Homo sapiens: one gene and its partner. The protein of the gene in region 1 purifies or fractionates together with the protein of each later gene. This does not show direct contact. Each region holds a gene or a part of one and is shown in the gene's direction. Other genes may lie near its edges.

Region 1 (7,028 bases):
GTTTCTCAGATGCACTGGCTGGCAAACTTTTTCTGCCAAGAGCCAGATAGATAGTGAATATATTTGGCTCTGTGGGCCATACGGCCTCTTGCAACTACTCAATTCTGCTGTTGTTGCACAAAAGCATCCATAGACAATATGTACACAAATGGGCATGGCTGTGTGCCAAGAAAATCTGATTTCTAGACACTGAAATTGGAATGTTATATACTTTTCATATGTCATGAAATATTATTTTCCTTTTTATTTTTCCTGACCATGAAAAAAATGTAAAAGCCATTCATAGCTCATGGGCTGTACAGAAACAGGCAATGGATTTGACCTACAGGCCATAGTTTGCTGACCCCTGCTTTCTGGCCATTCTTATGCTCTTGATCTGTGGATGACTCCACTGCATCCTAAGGGCATTTCCTCTGGTTATAGAGAAATCTACAATGAGAAACCAAACTGCTATTTACATGTATTTTTTAAAGCTCCTAACCATTCAAAAGTAACATCTTAATTTTTATATTAAAAATATTTTCTTTATTGTCTCTATTTCATTCACTTACACCTTCACATTATCTGGGCTTATTGATCCTCATTTATTTGGAGAATTTTAAAATAACCCCATCCATGGAGATAATGCTCTTCCTTGAGGGGTTGGGTCTGTCAGTGTCCCAATTAATTAATTATACACACACACACACACACACACACACACACACGTACATATATATATATATATATATTTTTTTTTTTTTTTTTTTTTTTGAGACGGAGTCTCACTCTGTCACCCAGGCTGGAGTGCAGTGGTGCGATCTTGGCTCGCTACAACCTCCGCCTCCTGGGTTCAAGCAATTATCCTGCCTCAGCCTCCTGAGTAGCTGGGATTACAGGCGTGCACCACCACGCCCAGCTAAGATTTGTATTTTTAGTAGAGATGGGGTTTCACCATGTTGGCCAGGCTGGTCTCGAACTCCTGACCTCAGGTGATCCGCCCACCTCGGCCACCCAAAGTGCTGGGATTGCAGGCCTGAGCCACCGTGCCTGGCCTAATTAGTTATATTTAAAACCTTCCTTCTGCTCATCGTTAGATAAAGATACCTGATTTTACTTCTTCCTTTGAGGTTTTGGGTCAAGAATTATCTCTCATGAAAGGAATAAGTCTTTAACGATTTTATTAGCTATTTTGTTTTTTAAAATAAGGCTAGGATCAAGAAGGTATTGTCCAGAATTATAAAAATATTATTTACAATAAAGCTTATTTTTGCATTATATAAAAGAACACATGCTCACTAAAGAACATTAGGTCAACATATAAAAATTGACTGATGGGGAAAATTCCCCCTGAGGTTCTGCCACCCAGGCATATTGGAATATTGCACACTAATCTTTATGCTGCCCATATATATTTTTTTACATAACTTTTTTTTTTTTTTTGCTTTATACAGAAATCAAAACACACCTTTTTGCTAAGAAACTTATTTTCTTAAAAACAGGACTGAGATGGGCCAGGCGCAGTGGCTCACACCTGTAATCCCAGCACTTTGGGAGGTCGAGGCGGGCGGATCATGAGGTTAGGAGATCGAGACCATCCTGGCTAACACGGTGAAACCCCATCTCCACTAAAAAATACAAAAAAATTAGCCGGGCGTGGTGGCGGGTGCCTGTAGTCCCAGCTACTCGGGAGGCTGAGGCAGGAGAATGGCGTGAACCCGGGAGGCAGAGCTTGCAGTGAGCCAAGATCACCCCACTGCACTCCAGCCTGGGTGACAGAGTGAGACTCTTGTCTCGAAAAAAAAAAAAAAAATAGGACTGAGATGTTTCATCGGCAGTTTTCTTGAATCTCTAATGTAACACAATGCAATGCAAAGAGGCTGTTTGGAGGATGGCAGCAGAGAAAAAGAACAAAGGAAAAGCAGGCTCCATTTAGAGAGTGGGTTAATAAATAATAAAAACTCGCCACACTGGGTAGTAATCTACAGGTCTTCCATCTCTAGCAGAAATATAGGTACTGCCGAGCTTTCTGCCACAGAGGGCCTTGGTCCCCATTCACCTCCCACCATCCCTCTCCCCATGGCCACATCTCCAAATGATTCATTGTTTCTGCTCACAGAGCACAGCAAGAATGAATTCCCCAGAATTTCCTCAGCTACTACAAATACTTTTGAAATCTTAAACTAACATCTGCTAATGCCCAGGTGCTACCTGGGGTTGACAAATTGGGCACCCTTCTGTACTTCTGCAGACACCTATTTAGATAATGTTGCCAGGCAGATGGAGATATTAAGCCATTGGTGAAAAGCTATTTCAATTTTAGACTTTTTTTTTTTTGGAGTGGGGGAAGGGAGGAAATAGCTGGAAGCTTGGTCCACAAAGTTGCAAATGTCTGGTAGCTAAGCTGGGCCTGGTGGGCGGAGAGTTTGTGGGGTTCAGGGCAGGCGGACAATGACTGTTGCTATCAATAGGTGATTGAGATATGTTCAGTATATTCTTTACCCCTACCCCTTTTTTGGTCCGTATCTGTATGGATGGTTTAGATAAGATCCAGAACTCTAAAAGCCAAACATGCTAGCTTTCTATTTCCACTCTGATTGGCTCCAAATGACATAGTTTAAAAGTTTCAATTTTCCCATCTTGAACATGGGCATGGAGTTATAAACCAATAGAGTGAAAGTATGAGACTTAAACCACTGATAATTGGAGGCTGAAGCGACTTTAGAGAGTGTCTCGCCCAGTGGTGCTCATATTTGAGCATGTATCGGAATCACCTGGGGGGCTTGTTAAACCGCAGATGGCTGGGCCCCACCCCCAGGGTTTCTGAGTCAAGATCTTGGAGTGGCTTTCTAACAAGCTTCCAGGTGCAGCAGCAGCAGCTGCTGCTGCTCTAGAGACCACACTCTTAGGAGCTCTGGTCTAGTTATACTCACTTATCTTACGTACGAGAGAACTGAGTTTCAAAGCAACCAAGAGTCTTACCAAGGTTATTTAGCTAGCAGCTAGAGTCTGGTTTCGTGACATTGAACCAACTGGGTTTTGGAATACCGTGTCAACACTGAGAAGGATGAACTGATATCAAATATCTTGCGTATGTTTCCGAGGGTGGTTTACCGGATGGTGGTCTGCTACAACTCAGCCATTTATTGTGGTCTGTTTTTTCAGTGAGTCAAGGTCTCTTAAGTCTCCAAGCTAAACAGGAGTACTGCCTGAAGCCAGAATGCATCGAAGCGGGTAAGTCACAGTTTTCCATCCTGTGTCAAGTTATAATTATGGTACCTTGGGAAGTGGAAGAGAAGACAGGTGGTATTTTTAGTATTCTGTTTGCTTGAGGTTTACCAAGTACGAAATGCAATTTTGAAGAAATTTTAAGTTTATTTTCAAGTTTTGGTGTGAAACAGTGGAGCTTAGGTTTCCTGTTTTCTTTTTCCTTGCAAAAACTGTGGTATTCTAAGCGTTGTTACAAGGAAATCAGGAAGGGGCTTGGAAGGCTGAATGGCCTCTCTTAAGACCCACAGGCAGAGAACATTGGTCTTCCTATGGCTCCGCTGGCTATGAATTCCTCTTTACCTTAAGCAGTTGCCTATCTTCTGGTCTGTGGGTCTGACTTGCCTGCCTCTAAGCAAGGCTCCTTTGCAAATAAATCCACGCTTCCATTGTCAGTGGGAGTCCCTTTTCTCTTTTTTAAAAATTGAGACGGAGTCTTGCTCTGTCGCCCAGGCTGGCACGATCTCAGCTCACTGCATCCTCCACCTCCTGGGCTCAAGTGATTCTCCTGCCTCAGCCTCCCTAGTAGCTGGGATTACAAGTGCCCACCACCACGCCCGGCTGATTTTTGTATTTCTAGTAGAGACGGAGTTTCACCTTGTTGGCCACACTGATCTCGAACTCCTGACCTCAAGTGATCCACCCGCCTTGGCCTCCCAAAGTGCTGGGATTACAGGCAAGAGCCACTGTGCCCGGCTGGGAATCTCTTTTTTCTGTCACACGTTGCAAGTCAAACTTCTCTTGAGGTGACCAGGCTGTGTATCAGTGGATATCCCAGGGTGAAGATGAGTGTTTAAAGTGGCCGCAGTTTTGCCACAGTGTCTTATCCCATCAAACTCATGGCTGGAGTTGCCCCAAAAGCAGCAACAGGGAAATTCCCATGAGGGAATATCCCATCCCGAGATGGGGCCAGTTGGGATTCCAAAGAAAGAAGCACTAAATAAATGCCAGGGCGGCCGGTCAGTCCAAAGCATTTATTAGTGCAACTTATGTTGAAAGTGCTGCAGTGTATCCTCAAGACAGTGAGAGAAAAGGGGTGTTCTACTTAGGGCATTAGGGTGTGGAGACTATATGCGGGTTTAAGGAATTTGGCTCAGAGCCGGTACTAGTTTCTTTCAGTGTTTTGTGCATCAACCTAGATACCTTTATCAGTGCCTGGGAATGTTCAAGGGTCCAGTCTGGACCTAAGCCTGCTGGGAAAAACCAGCAGCTGGAATTAGCCGGGCATGGTGGCTCATGCCTGTAATCTCAGTTACTCGGGAGGCTGAGGCATGAGAATTGCTTGAGCCCAGGAGGCGGAGGCTGCAGTGAGCTGAGATTGCACCATTGCACTCCAGCCTCGGTGACAGAGGGAACTTCTGTCTCAAAAAAAACAAAACAAAACAAACCTGCAGGTGGCTGGGTCACAGAGTGGTCAGGGGATTGTGTAATTTTTGGTTAGGACACCGAAAGCGGCGGTGGGGAGGTGAGGGGAAACCTGGGGGTCCCACACACAGCTATTAGATTTCCCTCCTAAATCAGTGTTAGGGCCTAGATTTCAGGGAGCCAGATTCTAGCCCTCACCCTCATTCTTTAAGTGGGCAGGGACACTTTTTTCCTTTTTCCAAAAGGAAAGTCATCAAACAAGCATGTGGCCCTTTCACTTTCCTCTTGGCCTTAAAAGGTTAATGAACAAATTCACCAAATATTTGTTGCACATGAGGTACTGAGTTAGGTTTTGGAAATAGAGCAGTGAACCAGGTATGGGAAGAAAGACAATAAGGCAATTAATACAATGAGAAAATTATGAAACTGGGTGTGGTGACACGTGCCTTTAGTTCCAGCCACATGGGAGGCTGAGGCTTGAGCCCTGGAGTTGGAGGCCAGCCTGGGCAAATTAGTGAGACCCCATCTCTGAAAGAAAGAAAGAGGAATATCAGTCAGTGGAAAATGTTATAGAGAAAATTAAAAAAAAGATAGAACAATGTGATAGCAAGTGACAGGATGGCTAGATTGAAAAGCCGGAGGACATGACCTTGGAGGTGACCTTTGAATGATGAGGAGGGAACTGCTGTGTGAAGACTGAGGCAAGGGCTTTCCAGGTGGGGGGAACAGATGGGGCAAAGGGTGCATAGAAGCATGAACTTGGTGGACTTGAGGAACGGGAGGAGCTTGCTAGGTGAGGTGCAAGTGATGAGGAGTCAATGGGGGACCCAAGTGCCAGTGAGTTTGGGCTTTCCTTAAGTGTGCTCGAAAGCCTCTGGAGGCTTTTATGAAAGAGAATACATCTTAGGAGCATTTCAAAAGATGTCTCGGTGGAGGGCTCAGTTAGAGGGAGTCTTTCTTGATGGAGAAGAGACCATAGGGAGCAAGAATAGAAGAAGGTGACTCAAGTAGGTTTATTTCTGTACGCCAGGTGACAGACGATGCTGTCTTGAATTCAAGAGATGGAGAGGGAGAATGGGGGAAGGTTTAGGAGGTAGAGGGCCTATTGAAGGATTCGATGCAGGCTGTGAACAAAAGCAGACAATTGTGGGTGACGCTTAGATTTTTGGTGATGGTTGGGCAGTGGTGTTTATTGAGATGGGAAACACTTAGGTGAAAGAGCTTGTAAATTCGGAGACCTTATACAAAGGTAGTGGCTTAGATAATTATGTTAGTAGAGTTCTTTTTTTGTTCCATTCTTAAGTGATCTCTCTCTCTCTCTCTCTCTCTCTATATATATATATATATATATATATATATATATATATTTTAACCAGGCTGTGTGTTGAGTGCCTTACAGGCACCATCTCATAAAACCTTCATAAGACCCCTATGAAGTCAGTGCTATCACCAGCCTCACTGACAGATGAGGAAATGGAGGCTTCTGGAGGCTAAATAACTGCCCAGGGTCTCATCCTGAGTTAGTAGCAGAGCTGGACTTCGTGTCCATGTCTGGCTCCTTTCCGTCTTTTCCTTGGTGATATGGGGCCATGCCAGGCAACTCTTTTTGGCCCTGGAACTATCTGAGAACTCCCAGGCCCTTTCCTGCTCCAGGCTTGAGTAGTTGACCTGAGGTTTTCTCCAGTGGTGAGAGATTGTCATGGAGTGGGGTGAGAGAGCAGGCGGAACTATCAGGACAGGTTTTAGAGTTTATGTCACCTGGTGCTTTGGCTGTGGTGGGGTTCTTGCAGATGTGTGAAATGGGAATTTTTGAGCTCATAAATTTTCAACTTGAGTTTAGAACACTTTTTTGTATGGAAGGCCACTTATTTCATGAGTTTTAGTTCTGTATTATGAATCATAATAATGCAAGACTAAAACTTACAGACTGACATTCAAAGATGTTGCCTTCTGCCAGCTAGTGTGTTCTGCCTTGCTGTCCTGTTTTTAATTTTCACATTGGCGAATGGCTTTCTAATGTTGAAAAAAAATATTGATTTTGCTGTTTCTGGAGTGAAAGGCTCACCAAAGACCCAGTTCTCTTTAGTGTAACGTGAGCCTCAGTGTGCCCAGGGGTCTGCAGAACAGCTGTGAGTACACATGGCAGGAGAATTACGGCCAAGCCAGGGCCTTAAACAAGAGGCTGTGCGTGCGTGGGCGTGCATGCTGAAAGTTCAGAAGACTAGAGTGTTTGATCGCCTTCTGGACCATTTCTGAGCAGGTGCCAACCACTTCTGAGATGCTTCCTCTCCATAACTCTCCTCTTCTCTGTGTCCTCTTATTTTAATCCCTCTTTCAAAATAAGAGCTGTGCAAAGAATGCAAAGAAACAAGGAAAGGGCATGCATGCTCATGATCACAGATAAGGGCAGACAGGCT
Region 2 (7,028 bases), on another chromosome or scaffold:
GTGGGTTTTACACACTCAGAATTGATATTTTTGGCTTGTGGTAAATGGGACTTTAATGCTTAACCTGCTGTAGAAAAATCCGCCTTAGAAAGTGGCCCTTATTCGTATATTGTATTCGATGTTTGAGCCCCCTGATATCTTATCATTTTAACAAAGCTTACCTTGAAGTGCAGGAAAAATTGTATGTGTTCTTGTCATTATTTGAATAACAACAAAAATCAGTATTAGCTTTAAAGCCTGTAGGTTTTAAGCGTATCCTTGCCTGGACTAGCATATCTCCTCTTTCTCAACCAAAAAGATCAGAAAGGTGCTATCCCAGTACCAAAAGTACTGGGAGGACTTTCAGCAGAGTGTGACGCAGAAGGGAAGCTTTTCCGCTCTGGGGAGCAGATGCGGAGAGGACAAGCACTTGGAACACAGCATCCCTGGGAGCTCTGGTGCTGCAGTTGTGACCCCGAGGCGGCCCTGCTGTGCCCTCCTGGGAGTGCTGGGCGACACTGGTTGCAGAGGGGCATTGGTGCTCCCCTCCACCTGACAGGTGCTCCACCTGGACTCGTGGCTGCAGCTTAATTTTGTGTCAGATCCTTTCCGGTAATGTATAGGTTATTTCAACTATGAGGCAAAGTGCAAATGGGTAGTTCAGTGTGGGTTTATGGTATTTGCCCTTTTTGATATAAACATTAAATATTTCATACCTCACCTATAGTACTTTTTTTAAGACTTAAATCTGAAATTTAAGATACAGATGTTTGTAAGATATGAATCTTGGATATTGGGAGAAAGAAGCCTCCTGGAAAATATACAGTATTATCTGGTGGAACCATTTTATTCCTTTTCTTATTGTGAGAAATACACATTTATGAAGTATTACCATTTAGGAGTTGTTTTCATCAGGCAGGGTACATTGATATAAATGTTGATTTTTAACATCCGTAAGTTGAAGTCTGACTAAATTGTTTTTCTCTGTGATTTCATAAGTCACAATTTATATTTTATATGACCTTAAATATTTAATTTGAAGTACTGGTATATTTAAAGGTGCTAAAACTACACGCATGCATCTCTACTAGTGGTTCTTAACCCAGGCTCATTTTGCCCCATCCAGAAGACATTTGGGAGTGTTGAGATATTGCTGGTTGTCACCACTGGGTGCGTGTACATGCACTGCTGACTGGGTAGAAGCCGGGGATGCTGCTCAGCATCCTTCAGTGCATAGAACAGCTCCCCACGACAAAGACAGGATGCTGATCGATACCCATAAATGTCTTTTTTTTTGAGACAAGAGTCTCGCTGTGTCACCCAGGCTGGAGTGCAGTGGCATAATCTTGGCTCACTGCAGCCTCCACCTTCTGGGTTCAAACAGTTCTTCTGCCTCAGCCTCCCGAGTAGCTGGAATTACAGGCATGCACCACCGTGCCCAACTAATTTTTGTATTTTTAGTAGAGATGGGGTTTCACTATGTTGGCCAGGCTGGTCTCGAACTCCTGACCTCAAGTGATCCACCCACCTTGGCCTCCCAAAGTGCTGAGATTACAGCGGGGAGCCACTGCGCCTGGCCCCATAAATGTCTCTTCTAGACAAGTGTATTGTTTTAAAACCATAATTTAGCCCTCCTGGAGGGATTTCAAGGATGGGTGCATTGGTCCCCTGCAGGTAGCTCAGCAAGCTTCATTGTGTCTCTCCTTGGCCCACAGTTTATAGTGATTCTGTGCCGGGTCTTGTGTGTTGGTCTGGAAGAAGGTGAAAAGATTTGGGGTTGGGCTGAGCGCGGTGGCTCACACCTGTAATCCTAGCACTTTGGGAGGCCGAGGTGGGCAGATCACAAGGTCAGGAGATCGAGACCACCCTGGCCAACATGGTGAAACCCCGTCTCTGCTAAAAATACAAAAATTAGCTGGGCGTGGTGGCATGCGCCTGTAGTCCCAGCTACTCAGGAGGCTGACGCAGGAGAATTGCTTGGACCAGGGGGTCGTAGGTTGCAGTGAGCCGAGATTGTACCACTGCACTCCAGCCTGGCGACAGAGTGAGACTCTGTCTCAAAAAAAAAAAAAAAAAAGAATTTGGGTTGATGGGGATTCATAGGATCTTTTTATCTTGGGGAATCCCAGCATCTGCTCTATCAGCTAAGGCAGTTACATCTACTCATAAAGAAAATTCCTTCAAAAGTTTTGTTGAGTAAAAAGTAAAACTGTAAGAGTTAAAAGACAAAGCTCTTTTGCTGTGAAACGCTCAGTGAGCTTTGGACTGCAGTCAGTGGAACTTGTGACACTGGTTTTTCTCTGCTGCTGAGATAATTGGAAGGATAAAAATATTGAGTGCCTTGTTTGAAAAAATACTGTTTATATTTGCAAAGATCCTTTCATTCTAGGGAGAATGTATGCTTTATTCATTGAGCTCTATAGAACATACCAGCATTTCTCTCATAGCCGAGCTGTTTTAAATATTAAGGTAAAATATATAACACAGGAAGCTCTTCAAGAAAGGCCAATTGAAGTGTAGCTGTTTAGAGACAACTCAAGATGATGAAAATACATTAAATGCCACTTTGAACCCAATTTAAGAGGTGTGCCATATTTAGAATGCCATTTCTAGGTTATTTAATTAATACCCAGTTGAGTGTTGGAATACAGTTGGGAGTAATATGATGAATCTGTCAGACTTCTGAGCACCCCAGCGGATTACAGGTGGGAGCTTGCTTTCCAGTTTGTGAGGAGAGAAAAGACCTAATAATCCTAAAGGGAAATTGAAATGAAGTGATAGTTTATTAAGTAATAATGCATTTTTTTACTTGATAAAACTTTCTGGAAAATTAAATGGTCTTCCAAAATTTCAGATACATTTCAAAAATAAACCTGATAGAAATAGCATATGTTGTCCTGGTGGGGTGGCTCATGCCTGTAATCCCAGCACTTTGGGAGGCTGAGGCGGGCAGATCACTTGAGGTAAGGAGTTGGAGACCAGCCTGGCCAACATGGTGAAACCCTGTCTCTACTAAGAATACAAAAATTAGCAGGGCAGGGTGGCAGGTGCCTGTAATCCCAGATACTCCGGAGGCTGAGGCAGGAGAATCGCTTGAACCCAGGAGGTGGAGGTTGCAGTGAGCAGGATCGTGCCACTGCACTCCAGCTTGGGTGACAGAGCTAGACTCTGTCTCAAATAAATAAATAAATAGCATGTGTTACTATATGTGTTAATTACATGTGTTCAGGCTGGGCATGGTGGTTCACGCCTGTAATCCCAGCACTTTGAGAGGCTGCAGCTGGCAGATCACTTGAGGTCAGGAGTTCTAGACCAGCATGGCCAACATGATGAAACCCTATCTCTACTGAAAATACAAAAATTAGCCAGGTGTGGTAGTAGACACCTATAATCCCAGCTGCTCAGGAGGCTGAGGCAGGAGAATTGCTTGAACCTGGGAGGCAGAGGTTGCAGTGAGCTGAGATCACGCCACTGCACTCCAGCCTGGGTGACAGAGTCAGAGTTCGTCTCAAAAAAGAAAAAAAAAATTGCATGTGTTAATGTAATTTTGAACATCATATTTGCTTACAGAAATCCATTGGGTAAAAATCTATAGCATTCGTAATAACTTTGGAGAGGGTTTTGGTTAATGGGCTATTATGTGTACTAACAATATCTGTTTACCTTTCTGAATTATTCATTTTTCTTGTCTTTCAGTTTTAGAAAGAGCGTTTTCGCTACGTAAAGCACATTCGATAAAGGATATGGAAAATACTTTGCAGCTGGTGAGAAATATCATACCTCCTCTGTCTTCCACAAAGCACAAAGGGCAAGATGGAAGAATAGGCGTAGTTGGAGGCTGTCAGGAGTAAGTAGCTGATGTGCAGTGTTGGTGTTTAAAAAGTCAGTTGCTGGCTGGCTGCTTACCTGACTGTCATTCACGCTGTCTAGTTTGACCTCAGTAATCATTTCCAAATGCAGCCTGATAGGACACTCAGTATTTTTCAGTGATCCACTTTTTGATTAACTAGGAAATAACTCTGAGGAGCCCTGACTGAATTACTCCCTCATGTGTGTCAGTGTTAAGTTTTGTCGTAGTGGGGAAATGAGCCTGTTTTTTCCACTTTCTGCTTTTCTGTATTTAACTGGACTTCATACCACAAGCATGTTTTTTGTATTTAGGATAGAAACACTCAGCAACCTCTTGGTTTACTTTGTCAATTTAAAGATGTTACTGAAAGTCATTTATGAAATTTGACAAATCCCTAGCTTGCTTCTGTTCTGTTTTGCTGCTGTGTTTGGTACGTAGCTGTTTGTAAGTTGTCCTTGGGTGTGAAGGATACCTTCTGCCTCTGACGGAAAGCCTGCCGTGGCTCCTCTGTTTCTGCTTGCTTTCTGTTTGCATGGATGTGGTATCTCTCTTTGCCCATCCCTCCATTTGCAGCTGTTGATCGTGCCATAGGGTGTGTTAGAGTTGTTACTGGATCAGGTATGTGTGCATTTTACATGCTGGTGACGCTGCCGAATTGTCCCCCCATTGCGTTAGTGTGTGTTGCCTCCCAAGAGCACCTGTTCCCTGCAGCCCTTGGAGGACAACCTTTGCTAGTGAAGTCGACAAGCTTTCTTGTTGTTTTAATGCATTTCTCTTATTAGTGAGGCTTGTTTTCACATGATGGAAGAGTGTGTGCATGTATGTTGCCTGTTCTGTACTGTCTTTTGCATTTACAACGCTATTGACACCGCTTTGCAGGAGAAGGCCATGTAAGGTGATGGGTATCAGCATTTGCCCAGGTCTCTCTTTCTTGGGTTAGCAAAACATTTCACTGCTCGGAATGGACATAAAGGTTGCATTTGCCCATCTGACGGAGGGCAGGGCTCTTCCTTTCTGTGCCTGAAGTGCCCTTAGACCTGGAGAGCCAGGGATTCCAGAACAGCCAGGCGGAAGCAGCTGGGTGGTGGGTGCCGTTTCTTGTTTGTCCCAGGTGGCCCCCATCTGGCCTCTGCTGACTGTGACTCTTGGAGGACGGGGTCTGCCCACTCTGGGACCCTGTCCATGCCCGACTGCTCCGAACATGTGGTTGTCACTTTCTTCTCTCCAGGCAGAAGCCTGCGGTCAGCTCCTTACCTTGAACATTCACATTGCAGGGAGACTGCAGGCATTACTGCCAGAGATTCACTCTCCTGAAATGCATGAAGGTTTTATGTAAAAGATCGACATTTCTGGCTGGGCGCGGTGGCTCATGCCCGTCATCTTAGCATTTTGAGAGGCCGAGGCGGGCGGATCACCTGAGGTTGGGAGTTTGAGACCAGCCTGACCAACATGCAGAAACCCTGTCCCTACTAAAACTACAAAATTAGCCGGGTGTGGTGGCGCATGCCTGTAATCCCAGCTACTCAGGAGGCTGAGGCAGGAGAATCGCTTGAACCCAGGAGGCGGAGGTTGCAATGAGCCAAGATCGTGCCATTGCACTCCAGCCTGGGCAACAAGAGTGAAACTCTGTCTCAAAAAAAAAAAAAAAAAAGACATTTCTAGTCGAACCTGGTTCATGTTCATTGAACATTTGCTGAGCATCTTTTAGGTGTTGGGTTTGTGCTGTGTGCTTCATGTCTCTGTTATTTATTGATAAACCATGTCTATATTATTTATGTCTATTTTTTATTGATAACCTATTTATTGATCAAGGTATGCTTACCTTATTCTCAGAAGTTTTTGACTCTAAATACCTTCTTTTTAGGTACACTGGAGCCCCATATTTTGCAGCAATCTCAGCTCTCAAAGTGGTATGTTTACTTAAAATTTCTTTATTGGGATTTTTCTGGTAGAGAGTTTGATTATTTAAATATGATTAAAGCAAATGTTTTCTGATAGAAATCTAAATAATATCTTAGGGTAATCATAGCTAATAGAAACACCGTTAAGTCTATCCTGACATCTGTGCATAAACAAGATCACTTCAGTTGAAGCTCATTTTTTTTTGAGACAGAGTTTCGCTCTTTTTGCCCAGGCTGGAGTGCAATGGCGGGATCTCGGCTCACAGCAACCTCCGCCGCCTGGGTTCAAGCGATTCTCCTGCCTCAGCCTCCCGAGTAGCTGGGATTACAGGCACCTGCCACCACGCCTGGCTAATTTTGTTTGTATTTTTAGTAGAGTCAGGTTTTCTCTCTGTTGGTCAGGCTGGTCTCGAACTCCTGACCTCACGTGATCCATGCGCCTCGGCCTCCCGAAGTGCTGGGATTACAGGCGTGAGCCACTGCACCTGGCCTCAATTGAAGCCCATTTTTAAAACCTAAAGCGTGATTTGTATTGTACTCCACCAAAGTGCACCTGGGATGCCTTTGTAGGTCGCAGCTGAAGCCGCTGATCCTGCAGTTTCCCATGAGCTGAGCAAGTGCTAACGGCCGGCCTCTTCCTGTGACCCTTCCTCCTGGAGGGTGACCAGACCGAGCTGGGCCGTGCTGGTGTGTGTGGCTCTGACCCTGCCTCTGCAGTGGCGGCAAAAGTCTTTCTTTTTAGGTATTGTGCTCTGCGCCCTGGCCCTTTGCTAAGCCACCTGGCTGGGTGTAATCCGAGCTAGTACGTTTCTCATGCACGTCACCAGGGCTGAGTAATGAGCGCTGGACGCCTGTGTCTGGCGGGTGGGCAGCGATGCCGGAGCGATCCCTGAGTCGGCCTCTTGTGCTCCTTCATCAGGGCGCAGACTTGTCCCACGTGTTCTGTGCCAGTGCGGCCGCACCTGTGATTAAGGCCTACAGCCCGGAGCTGATCGTCCACCCAGTTCTGTGAGTCGCTCTGCGCCGGCTTCTCGTAGGTTCTCTTTCCCTCCTGCATCATTTGGGGTTTTGGCACTGACACCGAAAGCGTCCTGATGGATTTTCCATCCTCAGAGTTTCTCAGCAGGTGCTGTAGAGGAAGTAGGGAAATGAAGGAGCCCGTTCTTCTGGGGTCAGAATAAGACAGAGACGGCGGGGTGGAGAGGTGGGTGGGGGAGCTTGGGCCTGTTGGAAATGGCCGGGGCCCAGCTCCAGAGGCAGGGAGGCCCTGTGGGCTGTGTGTGACAGGTTTGCAGAAG

Evidence for each region. Proteins that work in one complex are often made in the same cells at the same time.
Region 2: the proteins of PHEX (region 1) and NAXD purify together in Homo sapiens (affinity purification with mass spectrometry; 2 studies listed by BioGRID and IntAct, with this or other methods). This does not show direct contact.

The regions. Positions count from the first base shown.
Region 1 is NC_000023.11:22,035,325-22,042,352, forward strand, and holds part of PHEX (phosphate-regulating neutral endopeptidase PHEX), read left to right. Parts: intron 1-2,830; exon of another isoform or gene 2,831-3,070; intron 3,071-3,144; coding exon 3,145-3,213; intron 3,214-7,028. UniProt on the Homo sapiens protein: Peptidase that cleaves SIBLING (small integrin-binding ligand, N-linked glycoprotein)-derived ASARM peptides, thus regulating their biological activity. Cleaves ASARM peptides between Ser and Glu or Asp residues.
Region 2 is NC_000013.11:110,618,541-110,625,568, forward strand, and holds part of NAXD (ATP-dependent (S)-NAD(P)H-hydrate dehydratase), read left to right. Parts: intron 1-3,675; coding exon 3,676-3,826; intron 3,827-5,693; coding exon 5,694-5,739; intron 5,740-6,649; coding exon 6,650-6,738; intron 6,739-7,028. UniProt on the Homo sapiens protein: Catalyzes the dehydration of the S-form of NAD(P)HX at the expense of ATP, which is converted to ADP.